Homo sapiens: one gene and its partners. The protein of the gene in region 2 purifies or fractionates together with the protein of the main gene of each other region. This does not show direct contact. Each region holds a gene or a part of one and is shown on either strand. Other genes may lie near its edges. The genes, in order: PKM, PPID, PTGES3, MOB2, PSAT1, GNPDA2 and GPALPP1.

Evidence for each region.
Region 1: the proteins of PPID (region 2) and PKM fractionate together in Homo sapiens (co-fractionation; one large-scale study listed by BioGRID). This does not show direct contact.
Region 3: the proteins of PPID (region 2) and PTGES3 purify together in Homo sapiens (affinity purification with western blotting; 2 studies listed by BioGRID and IntAct, with this or other methods). This does not show direct contact.
Region 4: the proteins of PPID (region 2) and MOB2 fractionate together in Homo sapiens (co-fractionation; one large-scale study listed by BioGRID). This does not show direct contact.
Region 5: the proteins of PPID (region 2) and PSAT1 fractionate together in Homo sapiens (co-fractionation; one large-scale study listed by BioGRID). This does not show direct contact.
Region 6: the proteins of PPID (region 2) and GNPDA2 fractionate together in Homo sapiens (co-fractionation; one large-scale study listed by BioGRID). This does not show direct contact.
Region 7: the proteins of PPID (region 2) and GPALPP1 purify together in Homo sapiens (affinity purification with mass spectrometry; one study listed by BioGRID and IntAct). This does not show direct contact.

The regions. Positions count from the first base shown.
Region 1 is NC_000015.10:72,224,691-72,228,190, forward strand, and holds part of PKM (pyruvate kinase PKM), read right to left. Parts: intron 1-3,500. UniProt on the Homo sapiens protein: Catalyzes the final rate-limiting step of glycolysis by mediating the transfer of a phosphoryl group from phosphoenolpyruvate (PEP) to ADP, generating ATP.
Region 2 is NC_000004.12:158,713,397-158,716,896, forward strand, and holds part of PPID (peptidyl-prolyl cis-trans isomerase D), read right to left. Parts: intron 2,289-3,500; coding exon 2,166-2,288; intron 2,008-2,165; coding exon 1,901-2,007; intron 1-1,900. UniProt on the Homo sapiens protein: PPIase that catalyzes the cis-trans isomerization of proline imidic peptide bonds in oligopeptides and may therefore assist protein folding. Proposed to act as a co-chaperone in HSP90 complexes such as in unligated steroid receptors heterocomplexes.
Region 3 is NC_000012.12:56,667,785-56,671,284, forward strand, and holds part of PTGES3 (prostaglandin E synthase 3), read right to left. Parts: intron 2,581-3,500; coding exon 2,491-2,580; intron 1-2,490. UniProt on the Homo sapiens protein: Cytosolic prostaglandin synthase that catalyzes the oxidoreduction of prostaglandin endoperoxide H2 (PGH2) to prostaglandin E2 (PGE2).
Region 4 is NC_000011.10:1,476,780-1,480,279, reverse strand, and holds part of MOB2 (MOB kinase activator 2), read left to right. Parts: intron 1-3,500. UniProt on the Homo sapiens protein: Stimulates the autophosphorylation and kinase activity of STK38 and STK38L.
Region 5 is NC_000009.12:78,303,625-78,307,124, reverse strand, and holds part of PSAT1 (phosphoserine aminotransferase), read right to left. Parts: intron 2,391-3,500; coding exon 2,185-2,390; intron 812-2,184; coding exon 639-811; intron 1-638. UniProt on the Homo sapiens protein: Involved in L-serine biosynthesis via the phosphorylated pathway, a three-step pathway converting the glycolytic intermediate 3-phospho-D-glycerate into L-serine.
Region 6 is NC_000004.12:44,706,057-44,709,556, forward strand, and holds part of GNPDA2 (glucosamine-6-phosphate deaminase 2), read right to left. Parts: intron 1,871-3,500; coding exon 1,696-1,870; intron 1-1,695. UniProt on the Homo sapiens protein: Catalyzes the reversible conversion of alpha-D-glucosamine 6-phosphate (GlcN-6P) into beta-D-fructose 6-phosphate (Fru-6P) and ammonium ion, a regulatory reaction step in de novo uridine diphosphate-N-acetyl-alpha-D-glucosamine (UDP-GlcNAc) biosynthesis via hexosamine pathway.
Region 7 is NC_000013.11:44,999,538-45,003,037, forward strand, and holds part of GPALPP1 (GPALPP motifs-containing protein 1), read left to right. Parts: intron 1-2,612; exon of another isoform or gene 2,613-2,910; intron 2,911-3,500.

The DNA of each region.
Region 1 (3,500 bases), on a different chromosome or scaffold from region 2:
CATCACTACTAAACATACAAAAATTAGCCAGGCGCGCACCTGTAATCCCAGCTACTTGGGTGGCTGAGACACAGAATTGCTTGAATCCAGGAAGTGGAGGCTGCAGTGAACGGAGATCGCACCACTGCCCTCCAGCCCGGGCAACAGAGTGAAAAACTCTGTCTCAGAAAAAAAGGAAAAAAAAAAAAACACAAATAAAGGCTGAGCTGTATTTTCTTTAATTTCTTTTTTCTTTTTTTTTTTTTTTTTGAGATGGAGTCTCGCTCTGTTGCCCAGGCTGGAGTGCACTGGCGCGATCTCAGCTCACTGCAAGCTCCACCTCCCAGGTTCAGGCCATTCTCCTGCCTCAGCCTCCTGAGTAGCTGGGACTACAGGCGCCCGCCACCAGGCCCGGCTAATTTTTTTTTTTTTTTTTTTTTGTATTTTTAGTACAGACGGGGTTTCACCGTGTTAGCCAGGATGGTCTCAATCTCCTGACCTCGTGATCCGCCCACCTCAGCTTCCCAAAGTGCTGGGATTACAGGCATGAGCCACTGTGCCCGGCCCTCTTTACTTTCTAAAAACAAAAACAAGAATTTTAATTTTATACAGTTCATTTTTTCTCCATCCCCAAGCTCCTCCAACCCTTTCCACCTCCATCTTAAACTTTTTTTTCTATTTTATTTATTTAAATAGAGATGGGAATCTTGCGATGTTGCCCAGGCTGGTCTCGACCTCCTGGCCTCAAGTGATCCTCCTGCATCAGCCTCTCAAAGTGCTGGGATTACAGGTGTGAGCCACTGCTCCCAGCCACATCATGCATTTTGACACCCAATCACTGTCATGAACTCTATATCCTTCCAGTTCACTGAAGTCTATGTACAGTGTATCTATGTCTATACTGAACCCTATAATATTGTGGTTTTCTTAATGCCCTAAGTGGTATACTGTATATATCACTGAGTAACTTGTTTTTCACTCAGCAGCACATTTAAGATCCATCCAGTGGGTATATGGATCTAGCTAATTCATTTAAGCTGTTACACTAGTCCACTGTACAACAGACCATTTTATTTATGGACTGTCTTACTGGTGGCCACTCTCCCTCCCCGTTAAACTAAGTTTCTTCTATTAATCAATACTCTTGTAGTACATGTCTCCCTGTACTGTGTGAGTTTCTATATATCCAGAAATTGAAGTCTTAGGTCATGGAGTATGTTTATTTCTATTTTTACTAAATAAGGCTGAATTGCTCTCCAAAGTGGCTATATCAATGAACGCTGAGTTGCTGCCTTCCACACCTTTTTCCACACTTGGTACTGCCAGACTTTTTAAATGTTTGCCCATCGGTGACATTTGTTTTTCTGCTCATCTAATGTTAATAACCAAAGAGGGATACCCAGATAGTTTCAACGTTTACAACATCTCTATTTCCCTGCTTAACTCAATCAAATCTCCTCTGAAATGGCATGGTGGACACAGTGTGTCTTATGTGCCCTGACTGACTCCACTGATGGGCAGTTCTTTTTCGTTCATGGCCAAGGGAGATATCAGTTGTTTAAAATTGAAGAAACATGGCCAGGCGCGGTGGCTGATGCCTGTAATCCCAGCACTTTGGGAGGCCAAGACAGGTGGATCACGAGGTCAGCAGACTGAGACCATCCTGGCTAACACAGTGAAACCCCGTCTCTACTAAAAAATACAAAAAAAATCAGCCAGGCGTGGTTGCGGTTGCCTGTAGTCCCAGCTACTCAGGAGGCTGAGGCAGGAGAATGGCATGAACCCGGGAGGCGGAGCTTGCAGTGAGCTGAGATTGCACCACTGCACTCCAGCCTGGGTCATGGTGCGAGACTCCGTCTCAAAAAAATAAAATAAAATAAAATAAAATAAAAAATGAAGAAACATTATCTGCAAGTAAACTGAAGATGTTTGGAAGGGATAGGACTCCCTTCAGAGAATCTTGACTGCAGTATTCAGCCAGCAGCTGTGCTGGTCCACAGTGTGAAATGCTAGGACTGGCAACCTCACTGCCCTTGAATAACTGGTCTTGGCATCTCTCCCACTGCAGCCCCAGCCTGCTTCCAAGACTGCTTGCTGGCATGAGGAAAGAGGCTTAGGGCTCCCCAGGAGCTTTGTCTATGGACAGAAGTGGGGGAGGTGAGTCTCAGAGGCCACCGAAGGTACTGCAGCCGGCTTGTTCCCTCCTACGTGCAGACAAGCACAAACCACTGCAGGGGCGGGGCTTCACCGCACTGCATGGTAGGGGCCCTAAAGCACCCAACTCCTGAGCTGAGCAGTCATACCAAGAGGCAGGAAGGCCCAGCAGATGCTGCACATCACCCTCCACCACTCACCCAGGCTCACCTTCCCCCAACAGCTTCTTTAACAAAGTCCCAAGTATTTAAATTACTCAATTATCCAGTCTGCCCCTTGGTAAAAAAATGCAAGCTCCCCGCAAGTATGGTGGTATCAAAAATGGTCTTCATATATCTGGTTGTTTAGCTCTATTCCCATCTGTATCAGAACTGATGCTTAAAGGGACAACTTAAAATCCTTAAGACCTCATACCAAATAAACCAATCTCACGAAGACCCTTGAAGATGCAATAAAACTCTGCTCACAGGGTCAACGCATTCTTGTGTTATACCAGCTAATTGAGATTTGACTGTGGACTTTTGGAGTGATTCAGAAAGAAGGGTAATGTCAAATGAGTCATTTTCCTCTACTCCGGTCTCAGTCTTAGCTCTTGGCCAAGATAACACATCCTGACTTGCCTTCATAAAAGCTGAAGCAGGCCAGGTGCAGTGGCTCACGCCCGTAATCCCGGCACTTTGGGAGGCCGAGGCCGGTGGATCACCTAAGTCAGGAGTTCAAGACCAGCCTGGCCAACATGGTGAAACCCCATCTCTACTAAAAATACAAAAATATTAGCTGGGCGTGGTGCAAGTGCCTGTAATTCCAGCTACTTCGGGAGGCTGAGGCAGGAGAATTGCTTGAACCCAGGAGGTGGAGGTTGCAGTGAGCCGAGATCACACCATTGCACTCCAGACTGGGCAACAAGAGCAAAACTATCTCAAAAAAAAAAAAAAAAAAAAAAAAAAAAAACAAAAAACTGAAGCAAAATAAACTAAAACCCAAGTAAAGTGAGTTTGTAATGTAAGTGCTGCATTTTCTTCTACCTTCCTGCCCACGGCCGTTTCCTCATTTCTTCCATTGCCTCAATATTAAGAAATAAACAGCTTTAGGAAATAAAATGGTTTTTCCTGTGACCCCACATCAGTGTCACAACATTCAAGGCACAGAAGCAACTCCCATAAAGTGCTAGCTGTTTAGAGTCACCGCCACCAAATTTGCTAAGTCACTGGGGGTACGGTTCTTAAAGAGCTAATGATGCTCTTTGCTAAAATATGAATACAACATTATTTCTAATGCAATGCTTAAAATGAAAGCAGTTGTGCTAGACAGGAGACCAACATCCATACATTTTGGCTCAAGTCAGTAACTGAGAAATGAGTTCAAGA
Region 2 (3,500 bases):
TTTAAAATTTTTAAGAAGGCTTAAAAAAAATTGTTTTTGTTCCCCAAAGTGTTCAAAGAGGCCAATTTAAGAGCAATTCCCAAATCTAATTATGCACTAGTAACACTTTTCTATTTTTAAAACTCAGGTCCCCACTATGTACTTTCCAACATAATTATGTTTGGAACCAGGATTCTCATAATAGGAGAAGGGAATTCAGTAGAGGAAAGATGAAGGAGAACTCTATTGTGTTGATTTTGCATTGTCCCTGAAAAGGGCCCCAAAACTGAGCACACCTGGCCCCCAGAATTTGGTTTCTAAAGTTTTCTTTCTCTAAAAGAAATCAGAGGTCCTTGGAGAAACTGCCATATCAGATGTGAAAGTAAGGTAAGATGAGCTTAGAGCAAGCAAGTGCTCGCAGACTAATAGGAACATGCCAAAGGAAAGGGGCCTTCCACTGAACAAATTTGGAACCCTTTGGGCATGAAAAAGAATGACAATAATAGCGTACTAACAAACGGAATTGAAAACTACCCATAAGATATCCTCTAGTCCCTGCTACTTGGGAAGGTGAGGAGGGAGGATTGCTTGGGCCCAAAAGTTCCAGACCAGCCTGGGCAATATAAAGGAGGCCTTGTTTCTATAAAAGGAAAAAAAAAGAAAAGAAAAATATCCACAGGTCTATAGTGATACTTAAAAAATATGCGGGAGGCTCTTGCAAACAGAAGAATGCTAGTTAATAACTGTACGATGATAAACTTAGAAGTTCAGTATAACAGATTCAGGCATGGATTTTCAATGATGCTAAGATCCACTGTGTGAAAAGTTGTTGGGGACTAGAAATTCATACAATTTCACGATACCACCTCAGACTAACAAATGCTTGTGGCTGACACTACTTTAACCATGTGTGTGAACTCAAACAGGCCAAAGCGAAATGTGTCTTCAGGATGTGATATCATAGGTAATACAAAACAACACCTAAGTCTTCTTGCCAAAATATTTCACCTCAAACTAATCTTAAGGAAACAAACACATACAGATGAAAGTCTATAAAAACAACTGACTTGGACTCCACAAAAATGCAAATGAATAAAAAACCAGGGGAGGTAGGAAACGTAAGAGATACTACCACTAAATATAACACATAATCTTAGTTTGGACCCTTGATTTTTCTAAGAAATTGAAACAACTGGGGAAGTTGGAATATGGATTACTTTTTTTTTTTTTTTTGAGACAGAATCTCACTCTGTCGCCCAGGCTGGAGTGCAGTGGCATAATCTCGGCTTGCTGCAACCTCCACCTCCTGGGTTCAAGTAATTCTTGTGCCTCAGCCTCCCAAGTAGCTGGGATTACAGGCGTGCGCCACCAGCCCAGCTAATTTTTGTATTTTTAGTAGAGATGGGGTTTCACCATATTGGCCAGGCTGGTCTCGAACTCCCGACCTCAGGTGATCCGCCCAGCTTGGCCTCCCAAAGTGCTGGGATTATAGGCATGAGCCACTATGCCCAGCCTAAATATGGATTGATATTATCTATCAATATTACTTTGGGGTGTTTTAACGGTATTGAACTTATGCAGAATGTCTTTGTTTCTTAGGAAATACGTGCTGAAATACTTAGGGTAAAGTATCACAGTATCAACAACTTCCTATCAAAATAGTTCTGTAAAAACGTAAACAGCAAAAGTTAAAAATTGGTGAATGTAAGTAAAACTTATGAGTAATTATGTACTACTCGTTCAACTTCTGTCTTTTGAAATTTCTCAAAACAAGCTGAGGGGAAAAAAAAGGAAATGCAACTATTTCAACACACCTGGTTATTCCACAAGTAATTTGCAAAAATATAATGAGCAATTCTTAATTTTAGTTTATAATTCAATTTATAATTTCTTAAAAATAATTTGTTAGAAATAATATTACCTTAAAACTTCTGCATATTTTTTAATAGCCATCTCCCAGTTCTGGGATTTGAAAAAAGTATTTCCAATGTTTTTTAAGTCTTCTGTTATTAATAAAATTTTATCTACCTGTATAAAAAAATACAAATATGTTGGATTTTAGTAAGTAATGTGGTTTAATGCTAGATTCTATCATATGAGAGACTGAAACAAAAGCTCAAACTTTTAGTACTAAATATTTTCACTTACTAAATTAATTAAAGTTTGACTAATCTGAAAGTACTCACATCTTTTAAATCTATATCCGCATCCTCAGGGAAATCTGGATGACTGTCGCCAGAGCCATCTTTTGGGAATATTCCCCCGTCATCTCCTTCCTTCAATTCTCCACATTCTGCAATAACGCACAACTGTAAAAATAACCCTAAATTGTAGAAGTGCACTATCGTAATAATGAGAGATAAAAGCTATACAGCTGAAGTCATGTGCAGCACTGTCCAATTCACAGATTTATGTGAGAAGGCTCATTTATGTACTATAATGCTGTTTTTATACATTCCAACTAATACGACAATGTTAGTATTTACATAAGCATTTTATTGCTATTCAGGAGCTCAATAAACACAGAATAAGTTGGCAATTTTATCATTGTCTATGTAAGTGGCATTAGGTGGGGCATGAGCTTCCGGTTTACTACTATTCTTGTCATACACTGAGTGACAGCCTACCTCCTACAAGTAACTGAGCTTCCAACTCCCACTCACAACCCTGTCACTTAGGCTGGGTAGTATTATGGTCGTTTAGGGGTTTTTCTTTTTTTCTTTTTTTTTTAATAGAGACAGCATCTCACTATGTTGCCAAAGCTGGTTTCCAACTCCTGGTCTCAAGTGATCCTCCCACCTCAGCCTCCCAAAGTGCTGGGATTACAAGCATGAGCTACCATGCCCAGCCAATATTAAGGTCATTTTGATTCACAGACATTAAGTACACAAGGGTCTTCAGAGATAATCTAGTCTAAACCCATAAGTAATTTAGACAGGAGAAAACACGTGTGGAAAAGTTAAGTAACAAAGTCAAGGCCAAGCCTCTAGTTAATGCTACAATCCAGACAAGATTTTGGGCTTATTATCCTCATTCCACTATGTACTACTATACATACCAACTGAACAGTTTTGCAGGTATAGGAAGACTTAACGTAAACTAGCAAAGATCACCAAATGAAAGTTGAAATAATAAAAATCTCCTTTAAAACTACCCTAATTGTCTTTCCCATTGTAGAAAAGTTAAAAAAAAAAAAAAAAAGTGGCAGATCCTGGCTCCTATACCCAAAATTATTATAACATTTTTCCAGCTAATAATCACCTGATCCTTTTACTTATATTTCTTTAAGATAGCAACTAACAGGCTGGGTGCGGTGGCTCATGCCTGTAATCCCAGCACTTTGGGAGGCCGAGGTGGGCGGATCACAAGGTCAGGAGTTTGAGACCAGCCTGGCCAACATGGTGAAACCCCGTCTCTATTAAAAATACAGAAAAAATTAGCCGGGTGTTGTAGCGCGCGCCTGTAATCCCTGCTACTCAGAAGGCTGAGGCAGGAGAATAGCTTGAACCTGGGAGACAGAG
Region 3 (3,500 bases), on a different chromosome or scaffold from region 2:
TTAACAATACTGTATCATGCACTTAAAAGATAGCTGGGCGTGGCCAGGTCTGGTGACTCATGCCTGTAATCCCAGAACTTTGGGAGGCCAAGGCGGGTGGATCACCTGAGGTCAGGAGTTCGAGGCTAGCCTGCCCAACATGGTGAAACCCTGTCTCCACTAAAAATACAAAAATTAGCCGGGCATGGTGGTGGGCACCCGTAATCCCAGCTACTTGGGAGGCTGAGGCAGGAGAATTGCTTGAACCCAGGAGGTGGAGGCTGGAGTGAGCCAAGATCGTGCCATTGCACTACATCCTGGGCAACAAGAGCAAAACTCTGCCTCAAAAAAATAAATAAATAGTCTGTTAAAAGAGTAGATTTCATGTGAAGTGCTCTTACCTCAATTAATTAAACACACACAAAAAAGGATTCAGTATAAAAATTTTGGGCAATCTATCTTGAATGAAATGAGTAACTGGGAGTTTCCCTACCTCCAAAAGCACTACTCAATACTTTAAGTTTCTTTGGGCAGGAAAAATGCTAAATGTACCAAGCATAACGCTACGTGCTTAAGATAAACAGCAAGAGAAAACTGTACATATTCAAGAGATATGTAAGAGATAACAACAAAAACTGGACAACAAAGATAGCAAAATAAAACAAAAAACAAAAAACAAAAACAGTGTTATAAGGCTGGGGGTGGTGGCTCAGGCCTGTAGTCCCAGCACTTTGGGAAGCTGAGGCAGGAGGATCACTTGAGCTCAGGAGTTCAAGACCTGCCTAAGCAACACAATGGCTTGCACAGCTAGGTAAATGGTGGCACCGATTTCTACAGGTAAGGAAAGTACAATTAAAAAATAATATGAATAGAACATCCTCCCTTCCTGTTGAAATCACCATGCCAGAGTCACGTGTGGAGAACTGTTAAATAAGCAGTTGCATAAAGCTGGAAACTTAGCTCCTTTTATTTAACTCTTAAGGTCTCAAAATACAAAATCTAGTTAATGAAAAATTTCAAATAGCAACAAGAAATGGATTTCATCAGTATGCATTCGACTTATACACTAATGTTCTTTCTGTACTTAGTTTTATTCTACTACATTTGATAAAGTCTATTCTGCCTATATAGAGATGAATCATTTATTCTTGGGCCATGGCAACGTTATTTGGGTGACATCTTAGAAAACAGACTTTCTTAAACTTTTTTCCTTGTATATCTCATGGTAAACATTTCACCATGAATTTTTTTTTTTTTTTTTTTGGAGACAGAGTCTTGCTCTGTCGCCCAGGCTGGAGTGCAGTGGTGTGATCTCGGCTCACTGCAACCTCTACCTCCTGGGTTCAAGCAATTCTCCTGCCTTAGCCTCCGGAGTAGCTGGGATTACAGGCGTGCACTACCACGCCTAGCTATTTTTTTGTAGTTTTATTTAATTATTTATTAATTTAGAGACGGCGTTTTGCTCTTGTTGCCCAGACTGGAGTGCAATAGCGATCTCGGCTCACCGCAACCTCCACCTCCCGGGTTCAAGTGATTTTCCTGCCTCGGCCTCCCGAGTAGCTGGAATCACAGGCATGCACCACTACGCCCAGCTAATTTTGTTCACGCCTTCTGGGTTCACGCGATTCTCCTGCCTCAGCCTTCTGAGTAGCTGAGATTACAGGCGCCCGCCACTGCACCCGGCTAATTTTTGTATTTTAGTAGAGACGGGGTTTCACCATGTTGGTCAGGCTGGTCTTGAACTCCTGACCTCAGGTGATCCGCCCATCTCAGCCTCCCAAAGTGCTGGGATTACAGGCGTGAGCCACCGCGCCCAGCCTATGATTCTTGTGTTTAACAGTTTATCGTTCTGCATTTATTTATTTATTTGACCGAGTCCCGCTCTTTCGCCAGGCTGGAGTCCAGTGGCACGATCTCGGCTCACTGCATCCTCTGCCTCCAGCGTTCAAGCAATTCCCGTTTCAGCCTCAGGAGTAGGTGGGACCACAGGTGCGCGCCACCATGCCCAGCTAATTTTTTTTGTATTTTAGTAGAGATGAGGTTTCACCAAGTTGGCCCGTATGATCTAGATCTCCTGACCTCGTGATCTGCCAGCCTTGGCCTCCCAAAGTGCTGGGATTACAGGTGTGAGCACCGTGCCCGGCCAAAAGTTTATAGTCTTATTTTATGACTTCAAAATCCAAGTCAACTACTGCAATCATGCTTTAAAAAAAAAAAAAAAAAAAGTCCCAATGATGAAATTAGCAAACTAGCTGTGTTAGTTTGTCTTAATGCATTAACTTTTGTAACTTTTGTAGCTAACACTAATTCCTTTTAAAATCATTAAAATGGTTCAACTTCAGGATTAAAATTGCCATTGTTAACATCTATTTACTATGACTGCAAAATGGTCTTAAAAATAAAATAACATGCATCATGAATACCATTAGGTGCCCAAAACCATATTAAATTGACTACATAGACAGGTACCGTGTGCTTCGAATGGGGAGAGGTCCATTTAAAGGAACTTACCTCAGAGAAACGATCAAAATTAGACATGTCTTCATCTGAATCATCTTCCCAGTCTTTCCAATTATTGAAGTCGACACTAAGCCAATTAAGCTATAAATCAATACAAATATCACCCTAAGATTAGGCTAATTTGCATTTGGCATGAACCTTAAGACTACGTTTTCTTTTCTTCTAAAGAGACCAGGTCTTGCTATGTTGCCCAGGCTGGAGTGCAGCAAGCATTCACAGGTGCAATCCCACTATTGATCAATATGTGAGTTTTGACCAGCTCCGTTTCTGACCAAGGGTCTTGTTTACCCTCTTCAGGCAACCTGGTGGTCCCCGCTTCCTGGGACAACACCGTACTGATGTTAACTTAGCGTGGTTACCTGACATATGGCAATGCAACCCAGACTTGGGCGCAAGTATTTCTCCCACTTCACCCTCCAGAGTAGCTTTTAACTACAACAGGCACATGCTACTGGTGCCTGGCAAAACAATATTTTTTGAACTGTGACTTTGTATTTTTAGGAGGGCATGTAATTAGCACACAAAGAATAGACTAAGCTAAATGAGGTGGCTCACACCTGTAACCCCAACACTTTGGGTGGCCAAGGTGGAAAGACTAGTTGTGTAATCCTTCAGGAGTTCGAGACAGCCTGAGCAATAGTGGATCCTGTATCTGGGGAAAAAACAAAAAAACAAATTTCCTGGGCGTGGTGGCACATTCCTACAATCCTAGCTATTTGGAGAGGTGAGGTGGGTGGGAGGATCGCTTAAGCCCAGGTGGAGGCTACAGTGAGCCATGTTCACACCAGTGCACTCTGGCATGAGTGGCATGAGACTACCTAAAAAAAAAGACTAGGCTGGTGTCGTGGCTCATGCCTGTAGTCCCAGCACTTTGGGAGGCTGAGGTGGGGAGACTGCTTGAGCCCAGAAGTTCAAGACCAAGCTGGGCAACACTGTGATACCCCTTTCTACAAAAAATACAAAAATTAGCCAGGTGTTGTGGCATGCCCCTACAGTCCCAG
Region 4 (3,500 bases), on a different chromosome or scaffold from region 2:
AGAAGTCTTGGCACAGGCCTTCCACAACATCCACCTTCCTGTGGAAAGGCCACAGGCTGGGCCAGTGGCCCAGCTACCCAGGTCCCCAGTGGGGCCCAGAAGGTGCAGGAGCTGGTGGGGGTTGATGGGCTATGTTTCTAGGGACAGAGACGTTTCCAGAAGGAATGCCCTAAGATTGCAGAGAGCCCTTCTCCGCTGGCTCCCGTGACAGCTCTGGATGGGACAGTGAGGGCTGGGCTGGGCAGGCCACAGGTCCTTGCTCGGCCATTCATTTCATGGGGGCTCAGTTACCTTCTCCGTGACCATCCAACATGCCTGGTGCTGGTAGCTCTCTCCTGGAAGCACTGCACCCTGATTTCCTCAGTAAATGGGTGTCCGTTAGTGGCCCTGAGCACCTCACTTGCGTAGCATGGGAAGGAGCGCCGCCAGGCCTGGGTTGCTGAAAGCAGCCTTGGAGGCTGCAGGCAGGAGGAGGCTGGGTCTGCTGGGCTTAGCCTGGGACATGTGCGGCTGAGGAGGGCGGAAGCTTTTCCCTGATGTCCCGTTGTTGTCAGTGCACACAGGTCAGGGACAGAATGTGTGCCTGTGAGTGCGTCCTGAAAGTCATCCTGCCCACAGACATGGCTTTCCTGGCCCTGGCACAGGGAGACGTGGTCCCCAGACAAAGCTGAGTTCTGCCTTCAAGAAGCCAAGGGGAGCTTCTGCACAGGCAGCTGGCAGGCGTCCCCTTGGCTTCAGTCCTGCTGGGCCCTGCCCTCATGGCCATGATGGGTCACAGCTTGGTTTGGTTATGGGTGACACCGGGGCAGGTACAGACAACAGCTGGCTTCACTGTCTTAATTCCCCAGGAAAATGAGGTGTCACAGCCAGGCATGGCCCAGGAAGATGGGGACAGTGCTTATGGCTTTGAGGGGAGCAAGCTCAATGTGAGACGGCGGTGGCCTCCATGGATCAGGCATGGAGATGGGTCCTGAGGTGGCAGGGCAGCACCCGAGAGCTACTCGAGAGCCTTGTGTCCACTGTGGCTCTGGAGCCACCTGTGGCCAAGTGCTGGCTCAGCGCCTCTGCTCCTGGGCAGACGGGGCCTGGCACCCTTCCCAGAGGCTCTGCTCCTGCATGTTCTGTGGTACTGGGTTGGTTTGGAAAAGGGGTCCTTGGAGGAGTGTAGGATGTGGTGTTGGGCAGACCTATGTCCCCTTGGAGGGCCTAGGCCACCCAGATTTGCCTCTTGGTCCTTCTCATCTGGAGCTGGCATCATGGTGGTAGTAGATGTGTGTGAATTAATTGCATGTAATGCCTTTCCAGGAATCCTTTCAAACCAAGGGACAGAAATCCACTCAAACTAAGAGAAACATGGAGACTTCTCAGAGGGCCTCAGGGCCACTTGCCACCCAAAAGACCAGCAAGTCTGCCTGGGTCGTGTGAGGGCTCTGGGATTGAGGCGCGTCTCCTCCCTGCTAGGGCCTGTAGGACAGTCCCAAAAAGGCTGATGTCTGACTCCTAGGGAGACGAGAAAGGGGGCGGGGCCGGAAACACATTGCAGCAATAATGGCTGAGAACTTCCCACAAAGACACAAACCTGCAGACTTAAGAAGCTAAGCAAACCCCAAATAAGGCTCACAGACACGTGCAGATGCATGCAACCAAATGCTGAGAACTGGGGGCAAAGAAAAAGCCCTTGGCAGCCATCCTCTGTCAGCAGTCAGACGGCGGTGGCCTGGTACTGACAACAGATGCCGCAGTGAATGACCGTGGCACTTTTAGAAACCCAGGAGGCCAGAAGGAAGAAGGAAGCCCCACACATCTTCCAGTGCTGGGAGAAAAGAAAGGTCATCCCAGAATTCCACATCCAGTCAGTGTCCAAAGTCACTCAAAACCAAGAGCCCTCACAGCCAGCAGACCTGTTCCAGAGGCTCCCTGCAGAGTTCTCCCAACAGGAGGGCCTCCTCCCACTGAGTGTTTGTGGAGACGCCAGTGATGGTGCAAGAAGACAAGAGTAGTGTCCGGCAGTGCCTGTGCAGTGCCGTTCCCAGGGCGGCCGTGGGGCCTGTGCAGTGCCATTTCCAGGGCGGCCGTGGGGCCTGTGGTGGCGGTGGGGCTGTGGCGGCTGTGGGGCCTGGCGGCGGTGGGGCTGTGGGCAAGAGAGCTGCTATGCTCCAGTGGAAGCACATGTGTGGGTGCCATGGAGAGCATGTGGGGTTGAGTTGCGTGTTACAGCCCTTTGAGCAGGCCTTGCAGAGCTTATGTGAAGAGACGCAGTCAGAATCAGAATAGGTAAATTTAAATGAAATACAAAAACATTTCAGTGGCCCAAGAGAAAGCAGGAAAGAAGAAATACCATAAGGAATGAGAAACAGAGGCAACAAACAGCAAATAGTGGAAAACCTAAATGCTAACAGATGAACAGACGGGACTGGGCAGCTTATGAGAATGTATTTTTAAAATAACCAACTCTCTGGTGTTTACAAGAAGCTCATTTGTTGTATTTCATTCGGGATGCTGTCACGAAACATGATAGGCTAGGTGGCTTGTGAACAACAGAATCTTATTTCTTGCGGTTCTGGAAGCTGAAAGTCCAAGGTGAAGATCCACTGTGGACCAGGAAGGGGGCACTGACCACGTCACTGGATCTGATTAGCCAGATTCAGTGTCTGGTGAGGGTCCCTTTCCTGGTCCACAGACAGCACCTTCTTGCTGGAAGGAAGGCAGGGCGACGGAGCCACCAGTTCTGTTCATGAGCGTTCTACCCTTGCAACCTCATCGCCTCCCAAAGGCCCCATCTCCAGATACCCTTGCGTCTGGGGTTAAGCTTTCAACATAGGAATGTGGGGCATAAGCACCCTGTGTGTCACACCACTCTAGGTGCTGTGGTGCAGGCGGGTGAGAAGTAAGAGGACAAGATGTGCTGAGAAAACACCCATCAGAAGGAAGCGGAAGTGGCTATGTCAGTGCCAAAGGAGACTCCGAGGAAGGAAGTGACCAGGAATAAGAAGGTTATCTAATTAGAAAAGGAGCAGCTCTTGAAGAAATCCTGCCATAAATGTGTGTGCGCCAGACAACAGGGCTTTCCACACAAAGCAAACGGACGGCCTGTGTAGAAATCACATGATCGCCGGGGATTGCAGCCCTCTCCTCAGTGATGGAGCCTCATAGACAGTCAGCGAGAGCACGGAGCCCGATGACCCCACCCGTGGGTTGGATTGAAATGACACATGCACTGCAGCCTCAACAGCAGAACACCCATCTTTTCAACTTCACAAAGATTAGCCACCAAGATGGAGCATACCTGTCACAAAAGAGCCCTTAACAAATTTTAAAAAATCAAAACCATACGAAGTAAGTTTTCTGACCATGGTGGGGTTAAATTAGAAATCAGTAACAGAGAACAGGAAAGTCTCCAAACACTTGCAGACTAATACAATTCTGAGTAGTCCATGGGTCCGAGAGGATGCCTCAACAAAAAAACTTTAACAAACTGTACACAGGAAAATACAGCATGT
Region 5 (3,500 bases), on a different chromosome or scaffold from region 2:
CCTGCACAACAATGTGAATGCTCTCAATGCCACTGACCAGTATATTTAAAAATGGTTAAAATGGTATATTTTATATTAAATGGTAAAATTTGTTATATTTTATCCCAATTAAAAAGGCAGAATACCACTCAGTCAGTTCAACTGTTGTTCTTAGATTCTCTACCCGCATCGCACCCTGGGGCATGTACCTACAGCGCCAGTCCCACTGCCCTGCCTTGGCAAGCCACTCATAAAACGGTATCCTGTTGATGCTTTTGGAGGTGGGTACCAGGCAAGGGGAAGCTCCCTCACATAGGTCCCCTGGGCTCGGGATAATCTGCATCTGCTCTTGAAGACAAGTCTCTCCCCGTCTGTTGACCAAACACGTTTCTAAGAACCACTCTCAAAAGCAGGTAGTTCCCCAAGGACTCGAGTGGGACCCTGTGAGGCAAACATCACCACGAGGCTGGGAACAGCAGGACTCAGGCACTGCAACAGCTGGGAATTCGCACCTGGCAGCCTGCTCACTGGCAGCTGCACTGGCTCAGGGGTTCTGCAGGCCTCAAACACCCATGGTTCTTCCCGCTCTTGTATATATTAAAATGTCCCTGCAGACACCGAGTCAGTGGGTTCCCCTCACCCTGCCTTTTATACTCTACCTTGGAAACATCCACTGGCTTGGACAGGAAGTTTGAGGACATGTCACAAACCAGTACTGCTCCCTTGACATCGGGTATAAAGTCAAACTCCACACCATGCACCGTCTCATTTGCGCAATAATACACGTAGGAGGCATCTGGGTTGAGGTTCCAGGTGCTTGGATCTGGAATTTCTATCACAGAAGACAAGTTTGAGACTTTGCACTTTTCACTCTCCTCTTTCCTTACATAGATGGGAGTCAACCAGGAGACTGACAGGCCTCCCCTAGCAGGGAAAGACTAACTGACTCCAAAGCATTGCACGAGTGAAAGCAACCTCCCAGCCTCATCCTTTGTTACCATCGTTATCAACATCCTGAGAGGATGAGCGATCCAACCTTTCGACTTTTACTGGGAACAAATCATCTTCAAAAATGGCATGGGAAGGTGGGCATGGTGGTATGTGCCCATAGTCCCAGATATTTAGGAGGCTAAGGTGGGAGGATCACTTGAGCCCAGGAGCTGGAGGCTACAGTGTGCTATGATCCTGCCTGTGAAGAGCCACTGTACTCCAACCCGGGCAACACAGAAAGACTCTGTCTCAACAAAATAAAATAAAGTAAATTTTTTCAAAAGGCATGGGAGATATCTGAGTTTTTACTTGTCGCCCAGTATCCATCTATCCTACATCCATTGATGGACTAGTAGTTTCTTCTTGGAACCCCAGCCCTCACCTACTCTCAGCCCACGTAGTTCCAGGGGAGCCAATGAAACCTACAGCCCAGAGGTAGAATGCAACTCAGGCATGGCCACAGGGACTGATTCAGAATGGGGCACAGGACATGAGACCGTTACTGGGAATGCTCCATAAAGGCATTGAAACTTGGGAGAATATAAGGTCAGGAGCAGCTGCAGCCACCTTTCAAGAAAGGGACAGCTTTTTCTGCCTGTGGAGCCACCAGGTCCTGGAGACATTGTTGGGGCCCCTGATCAAGCCATATCTAAAGCCAAACCAGCCCCTGGACTTTTTCAGCTAATTAGCTGAAAAACTACTACTAACTACTGACTAGCTTCTGCAAGAAGAGTATGCATAGGCCAGGCACAGTGGCTCACGCCTGTAATCCCAGCACTCTGGGAGGCCGAGGCAGGCGGATCACCTGAGGTCAGGAGTTCAAAAGCAGCCTGGCCAACATGGTTAAACTCTGTCTCTACTAAAAATACAAAAATTAGCCAGGCGTGGTGGCCAGCACCTGTAATCCCAGCTACTTGGGAGGCTGAGGCAGGAGAATCGCCTGAACCTGGGAGGCGGAGGTTGCAGTGAGCTGAGATTGCACCACTGCACTCCAGCCTGGGTGACAAAGCAAAACTCTGTCTAGAAAAAAAATAGAAAATAAAATAAAGTAAGAGTATGCATAGGCTCTAGTCTTAGCTAGTACAGCCACCCAATCTAAATGGTAATGAACTAACACTGTCAAGGGGAGAAAATAATTGAAAACTACAGATTGCCCTGGGTCGGGGTAACCCACCATTGAGCACGTCACCACCCAGCTCAGCTCCCAGAACTTACTTGTATAACTCCCAAGTTTAGGGTGAACGATATTTATAGTCCCAAACTTCTTGGCTTCTTCTGCGGCCTTAGCTGACCAAGCTCCTGTCACCACATAGTCAGCACACCTTCCTGCTTTCAAGCCAATGAGGTTTAAGGGGACAGCACTGAACTGGCCGCACCCACCTCCTTGCAGAAAAATCACCTTATAGTTGTCTGGAACAGCTCTGGGCAGAAGCATAGGTAACAGTCAATACATAAACTCATGTGGTCAAAGATTGAGAACAAGTGATGCTCTACCAAGTGCTTTAACTTGGGTGGATTTACTACAAGAAATATGGTAATGTTACAATACTACTTTGTCTTCCCTAATTCACTCATTTATTTATGCAATCCTTGGACAACTATTTACTGGAGACTGTGTTGAAAGCCTAGGGTTACTGTTTGACCTGAAGCTCTTCCTCCTCTTCTTAGTGACAACAGCCTGATGTTCCTTTAGGAAATTACCCCTCTGCCACTCTCAGTCGACATGGTTCAACTGTGGTCAACCCTGGCTCAAGGGGATGAGTACCTGCCCCAGGCTGGCCAATGGAATTTGGTACTGAGACCTTTACTCAAACTTCTAGGTAAGGAAAGCTGTTTCTATTGAGGGAAAGAAGAAACTTGTAGGAGCTAATCCTGCAACCAATGGTGGCCACCCAATGAAGAGAACACATAAGAAAGCAGAGCCAGAAGATGGGGGAAAATCACCTTCCTGCAGTCATTTAGAAGCACCTAAATTCTCCTGCATTTATCTGTTAGGTGAGATAATACATTTCTTTTTTACTTAAGCCAGTGAGTTGGGGGTCCTATAACTTGCAACCAATAATCCTGTGTTATGCAACATGCTATGAACCAGGTGGATGTTGGGCAGGGGGTTTCGATAATGTTTTAGGCCTACCCATGAAATCATGTATCTATTATACATCAAAATAAAAAGCAAAATTCTTTGACTCCAGGATGAAAAAGTAAGATAATGATGAGAATGGCTACAGGCAGTAGAAATAAGCCCAGCTCCAAAAGGACAAGGCCATGGAAACTGGACCCAAGCCACTGAGTAAGGTCAGAGCCTGGGAATAGGTGTACGGAAGCCAGATGGCCAGGGAACAGAGCTCCAGCAAAGATACAGAGGTAAATTAATAAAGGGCAGGGCAATGTGGCAGGGTCTTGGGGAATGGGGTGGTAGGAGTGTAAATATCTTGTCCTGAAAGATGTATGGCCTATATTCAGTGCTTAGTAGGATAGCAAGCAACCAGCAGGTCTTAGGAGACTCTGGCCATGAGGTTCTTAGCAGCTGG
Region 6 (3,500 bases), about 110 Mb from region 2:
GCCATGTTAAATGAATCTCCTTAAAACTGGAATTAAAATTTGTGGATAGTGAGGATTCCTTGTAGTCAAGGAATCTATTATTTGGGATGAAATCTGAAGGGTTACATGGGAAAATAGAGTTAAAACTCCATCAAATGCTCTTTTATTCACAAATCAGAAATTTTTCAGTTTTTCAGTTTTTCAGTTTGATATATTTGTGGCTTGGTAAATTAGTAATTTAAATGGTAAAAATATAAATGACTAGAAATAATCTAAGTGTTAATAAGGAAATGTTTAAATAAATTATGATTTATGTACTTAACTATCCATTAAAATGCTTCCAAATATTTAGTAAAACAGGAAAATGCTCATGAAACATAAGTACAAATACAAAACTATATACAAAGCATGATCAGCATTTTGTTTAAAAATAGACTATTTTCAGTGCTTGCCAAATGTCAGTTATTTGTATAACACCTTCAAGATATTTGCCATATTCACACATATACATGAAATATGAGTTGGTTTTCTTTGCATTGAATTAAAAATTTAAGATTATATACTTTATTTCTGAGTATGAGATGCTATAAATTGTAAGACACACCATTTTATGTACCACTGAGAAAAAAATGCTACCCAGTAAGCTATGATCTGACACCAGTTTTAAGACACAGTCCAACATCAGCAAGATCAACGTGTATTAGAGCCAATCAAATATGGTAGCTTTTTTGGACCTTGTCTTAAGCAATAATATCCAAAAAATATAGCTTTGATTTATTCAGTGTATTTTCCAATAGGCATTAAAATAAATACCTAGTTACTAGAGTAAAAAAGATTAAAAGGTATAATCATGTAGCAAAAGTAGCATACATACTACATAGTGAATCACTGACCTATCTATATGATCAACTATGTAACTTTTAATATCAGCTATGTAAATACAGGTGCTTTATGAAAATTACCTGTTTGTACAGTTTGCTTACATATGTGTAATATGTGGAGCTGACTCTTAAATCAGAGAATAGGTTCTACATTGGGTATAGGCAAAATGTCCCTTGAAAATCTCTTAAAACCATTATATCAAGCATATGTGTTTTGTAATACACAGCCTGGTAGAGTAAGGTTTCTGAATTACTGAACTAGACTACAGGAAAAAGGAAAATCAACATGAAGTCTGGGCAATCAAACTCCTGCTTACTTGCAGAGTTTATTCCATACTATTTTAACATTTAGACATTATAACTTTAATATATGGGAATAAATTGGCTTAAAATTGTAAAGATTAAATTAGATAGTGGGAGATCTCTTATCCACTGATTAGGTTCTAAATTAAGGTTAGAGGGGAGTGAGGAAGAGGGATTGAGGTGGGACTAGTAAACATGAAAAGAAATCCAGAATGGACAAAGATACATTTTCTTTTGGGTTATTTGGTCTTGTATATTCAATATGAAAGTAAATTATTAAACCTTGGATTTCAAGAAAAATTGTTTACTGAAAATAGAGACTGAAGAGATTCTCTTCATGAAAAAAAAAAAAAGGTACTACTTTGAAGATACTATTATCTGAGGTGAGAACTTTCCATTACTTGAAAGAACTAGCTATGTGTTGCCACTTTTCAATAGGTCACAGTGTGAGATTTAACCCCACAGTCACAGTAAGTTTTAATTGTCACTCACAACAGATTATCTCAGTCGGCTTTTGAAATTCAGTGCTCACCTTTAAAGTATTTCACAGTTTTAACTCTTAATTCTAAAGTAGCATCTTCATCGCATACAAAAATAGTCCGGGGATGCTGCTGGAAAGCGGAAACAGTCCACATGTGATTGACTCCTTCTTCTATTGCTTTGTACAGGGCAAATGCCTTGTGTGCCCCTGTTATAAGGATCATTACCTGAAAAATTATGAACATCAATTGTTAAAACTTGTTCCAAATGAGTAAGAAGCTCTATTTTTTTTAAACGAGAACTTAAGCACCAATATTTTTTTCTGAGAGAAAGAAAAATACATAGCTCCACATAATAGTTCAAGGTATTCATTTCTACTTTTTAAGATTAACAAGCACAAAATGTTGCTTCTAGTTTAACAAAGCAAAACAATATCTTGTTATGGGTTATTAATGCAAACACTATAATACCTGTAACTTTTAACATAGTGAATGATGATGTATAAAAGAAACCTGGGACAATGAAGAAAAAGAAACAAAAGGACTGTGTTGCAAAAGCAGAGTTACAAATCTATAAATAATTTATACAATCTAGAATGATACACCAAGTTGCTGTAGTCTAGATAAGCAAAAGATACTATGTCAGAAAAGCAAAGACTCTAAAACAACAGGTAATTTGAAGAGTTATCAAGAAAAGCCTGAAGAGCATTTCACTGAACATGTGCTATTCAAAGTTGACTCAGAATAAAAACTGGATTTAAAAAAGGATTAGGGATCTACTTAAACATAGGAACTGTCTTATAAGCACATAGGAACTGTCTTATAATCACATATGACTGATATTACCCTTATAAGCTACAGAAAATCCAAGCTCTTGGTCCCCAGGCCCTAAATGCCAATGAAATAATGCAATGACATGTTGCAAATGTGAATGTGTATGTGTCGGAATCTTTTCTTTATCATGTTTAAGCTGGAAATTGATCCCATTTAACACCTCATCTACACACATATTTTTGTAATATAATCTTTAAACTTTTTTTCCTCATTACAATTGTTTTAAAAAACAATGTTAAAATTGCTGTAGTTCTAAAATATAACAAATTTTGTATTACATATTTTATAACTAGACCTAAAATGGGAGGAAATACTCTGCACTCTCCTTGAATTACCTCAACTCCTCAAAACACCACCATGAGAGAAATACTATTCTTACTCATATTTTAAAGATAAGGAAACTGAGGCATATTCTGTAACTGGCCCAAGGTTTTGGTAAGATACAAACAAGTAGTTTTTTTCTACAGTGCATATTCTTAGCGATTAACAATTACATTACATTGCCTCTTGTAAAAGTTCTAACAATTAGACAATATGAGCTAAGAGTCTTTTCATTATGGATGCACACTCTAAAAAGGTAATGGGACAGGTGGCAAGAAATCTCAACATGAAGTATATATACTGAGGAAAAAAAAGACAACTAAACTTTTATTGGTGAGAAAAGGTAAGTACATACCTGGCATTACCATTATGAAGGGAGTGGAGGGAAAGGAGGCTGCTGGAAGGGAAGCTTAGTATAGGATGAAGAATTCATTATTGGTGTTTATCTATGGCTAAGGCATAGATAAAACAAATTGGTCTTTAAATAGACTTGATCTGATATGTGATTAGTTATATCATACCTGTTCTACTCTCAAGGAGATTATTTCTCATATCATGGGAAAGGACAAACTATATGGAATAATTTGTTATGTTTGTTCAAACTGCAGAATCCCTAAATTTAAAGAAGCAAGCTAGGTGTGGATACCAGGTGATTCTTATGTACACTAATGTTTGACAACCAGTGCTCAGGCAGATGTTGCAT
Region 7 (3,500 bases), on a different chromosome or scaffold from region 2:
TAGGGGGTCTGTATTGTGGCGTATACTGACTGACACTTTTAATATTCTTCTCTTTTTTCTTGAGACAGAGTCTCACTCTGTCACCAGACTGGAGTGCAGTGGCGTGATCTTGGCTCACAGCAACCTCCGCCTCCCGGGTTCAAGTGATTCTCCTGCCTCAGCCTCCTGAGTAGCTGGGACTACAAGCATGTGCCACCACGCCCAGCTAATTTTGGTATTTTTAGTAGAGATGGGGTTTCACCATGTTGGCCAGGATGGTCTTGATCTCTTGACCTCATGATCCGCCTGCCTTGTCCTCCCAAAGTTCTGGGATTACAAGCATGAGCCACTGCGCCTGGCCCCTTTTTTCTTTTTTATATCGCCATCTCAGTATTCTATCATTTCATGATGAAATAGTTGTTTATTTTGAACAACTCAAATAGAAATTAATGGTACTATGTGCTGAATGTTACTTTTTTATACTATTTTTCCGTGATTATTTTTAAAAGGCCAGGTTTTCTTAGATGAGTTTTATCTTCATCTGCTTATTATCTTTTTAAAAAATGTATATCTCGTTTGTTTCTTTAAAAATCCATGGCAATTTTTTAGTTGTAATAGCACCAGGTGTGGTGGCTCATGCCTGTAATCCCAGTGCTTTGGGAGGCCAAGGCAGGAAGATCACTTGAGGCCAAGCGTTCAAGACCAAGCTGGACAACATAGTGAGACCCTGGTCTCAAAAAAATAAATAAAATAAAATTTAAAAATTATCTGTGCATGGTGGCAAACACCTGTAGTCCTAGCCATGCAGGAGGCCGAGATGGGAGGATCGCTTGAGGCCAGGAGTTCAAGGTTACAGTGAGCCATGATCACTGCTTTCTAACCCAGGCAACAGAGCAAGACTAAATAAATAAATGAGTGAATGAATACATAAATAAAAGGTATGTGTGTACGTTATAATACCAAGAACAGCACATATTTAGACCATATTACACATCTAATTGCTTAAAATATATAAAAGAATAATAAAATTTTTTCTTGATACAAACCTATCCAAAATTGGCCAATAGTATACAATTGATAAATTACATGGATAGCAGTCACATATAAGAAGAGAAAGAAGCAGAAGAGGAAAAAACATATCTTCCCTCTTTAATGTACTTAGAATCAAGAAGATGAAAAGAGCCAATCACTCCTGTGGGGTCACACATGAGGTTAGAGGTCACATATAGTCTCTAAATTATAAATAAATTGGGGAACACTTACATACTAAGACATTAAGTCTTCTTTAGTAAACCCTAAACAGCAGTTGGAGATAGGAATCCCATCCATGATGCTTGATGTTTTCCTTTTTGCTGTAACGCAGCATGCCTTAGAGTTATTCTTTTCTAAGGCATGTTATTACCTGTTCTATAGTAATGCACCAAGAGAGATAGGAAAAATTTTTTTGAAATAGGCCAATGATTCCAAAACTAGCCTTAGTTTCTCCCCTGAGCTTTACACTGTAATAATGTTTGGCTATGTCCCCACCCAAATCTCATCTTGAATTATAGTTTCCATAATCCCTACATGTTGTGGGAGGGACCTGGTGGGAGGTAACTGAATCATGGTGGTGGTTACCCTCATGCTGTTCTCGTGATAGTGAGTTCTCATGAGATCTGATAGTTTTATAAGGGGCTTCTCCCCCTTTCTCTCTGCACTTCTCCTTCCTCCTGCCATGTGAAGAAGGATGTGTTTGCTTCCCCTTCCACCATAATTGTACGTTTCCTGAGGCCTCCACAACCATGCTGAACTGTGGCTCAATTAAACCTCTTTCCTTTATAAATTACTCAGTCTCAGGTATTTCTTCATAGCAGCATGAGAACGGACTTACACACCCTATACACCCTAGTATGCCCAAGTACCACTGATAGCACCACCTAAATTTTTAAGGCTGTATGAAACTTAAAATGTGAAAAACAAACTCTCAACTCTCCCCTCCCAGCCTATTTTCTTCCCAGCCTTCTCCATATTAGAGAATACCATTGCCCTTCACCTGCCTAGCTAGTCAGGCACAAAACCTAAGACCTATCCTTGGTTCCTTTTTTTTTTCTTCTCACCTCTAACATCCAAACCATTAGCAGTCCTCTTTGCCCTTACATCAGAGTATGTTGCAAATCAAACCTTTTTTTTTTCTTTCTTTTTTTTAGATGGAGTCTTGCTCTGTCGCACAGGCTGGAGTGCAATGGCGTGATCTTGGCTCACTGCAACCTCCACTGCCAGAATTCAAGCAATTCACCTGCCTCAGCCTCCTGAGTAGCTGGGATTACAGACGCACACCACCATGCCCAGCTAATTTTGTATTTTTAGTAGAGACAGGGTTTCACCATGTTGCCCAGGCTGGTCCCGAACTCCTGACCTCGGGTGATCCGCCCACCTCGGCCTCCCAAAGTGCTGGGATTACAGGCGTGAGCCACCACACCTGGCCCACACCATTTTTTATCAGCTTTCTAATGCATATCCCCTGTTGCTGATCTCTCTTGTCTATTGTCCACAAGCTGACAGTTTTTTGTTTGTTTGTTTGGTAATTCATATCATGTCTGTCCTGACCCACAACCTCCCAATGACTGCCTGTTGTAATTAAAATCCAAACTCCTGCTGGATGTGGTGGTGCATGCCTGTAGTCCCAGGTACTCAGGAAGCTGAGGCAAGAGGATCGCTTGAGTCCAGGAGTTCTGGGCTGTAGTGCGCTATGCATTCTGGTATCCACACTAAGTTCAACATCAGTATGGTGACCTCCGGGAGTGAAGGACCACCAGATTGCCCTAAGGAGGGGTGAACCAGCCCAGGTCGGAAACAAAGCATGTGAAAACTCTGGTGCTGATCAGCAGTGGGATCGCACCTGTGAAAAGCCACTGCACTTCAACCTGGACAACACAGTGAGATCTCGCCTCTTAGGGAAAGGGAACAGAAAAGGGAAAGGGAAAGAGAAGTCCAAACTCCTTATTGTAGCCTGTACTAGCATTTATTGAGCACTTGCTATATGCCAAAGACTTTGTTAGGTGTTTTGCATATATTAACTGATATAATCTTCACAACAGTCCTGTGAGGTTGAAACTATTATTAACCTCATTTTACAAAGCAAGAGTGTAATAGGAAGGTTAAGTAACTTATCCAAATCACACAGCTAGTAAGTGGCCAACCTGGAATTCAAAGCACAGAGTCTGCCTCCAAAGCAAGAGTCTGGCCCCTTTATACCATCCAACTTGATGTCGTCATTTTGCTTTTCTTTAGCCACACTGGCCTTTTTATTCCTCAAGCACATCAGGCTTGCTCCCTGCATAGGAGTTGTGCACTGGCTGTTCCTCTGTCATCTCATCATTTAAGTCTCCATTCAAATGTCTTTTTCTCAGAGAGATTTTTGCCTTACCACTGTCTTTAAAATTACCCTCCCACATATACAGTGTCACCTTTTTCCTATTTTCATAGTAGCATTTACACTATCTGAATTGATCTTAATTCTTTTAATGTTTGTTTCTCTAGAA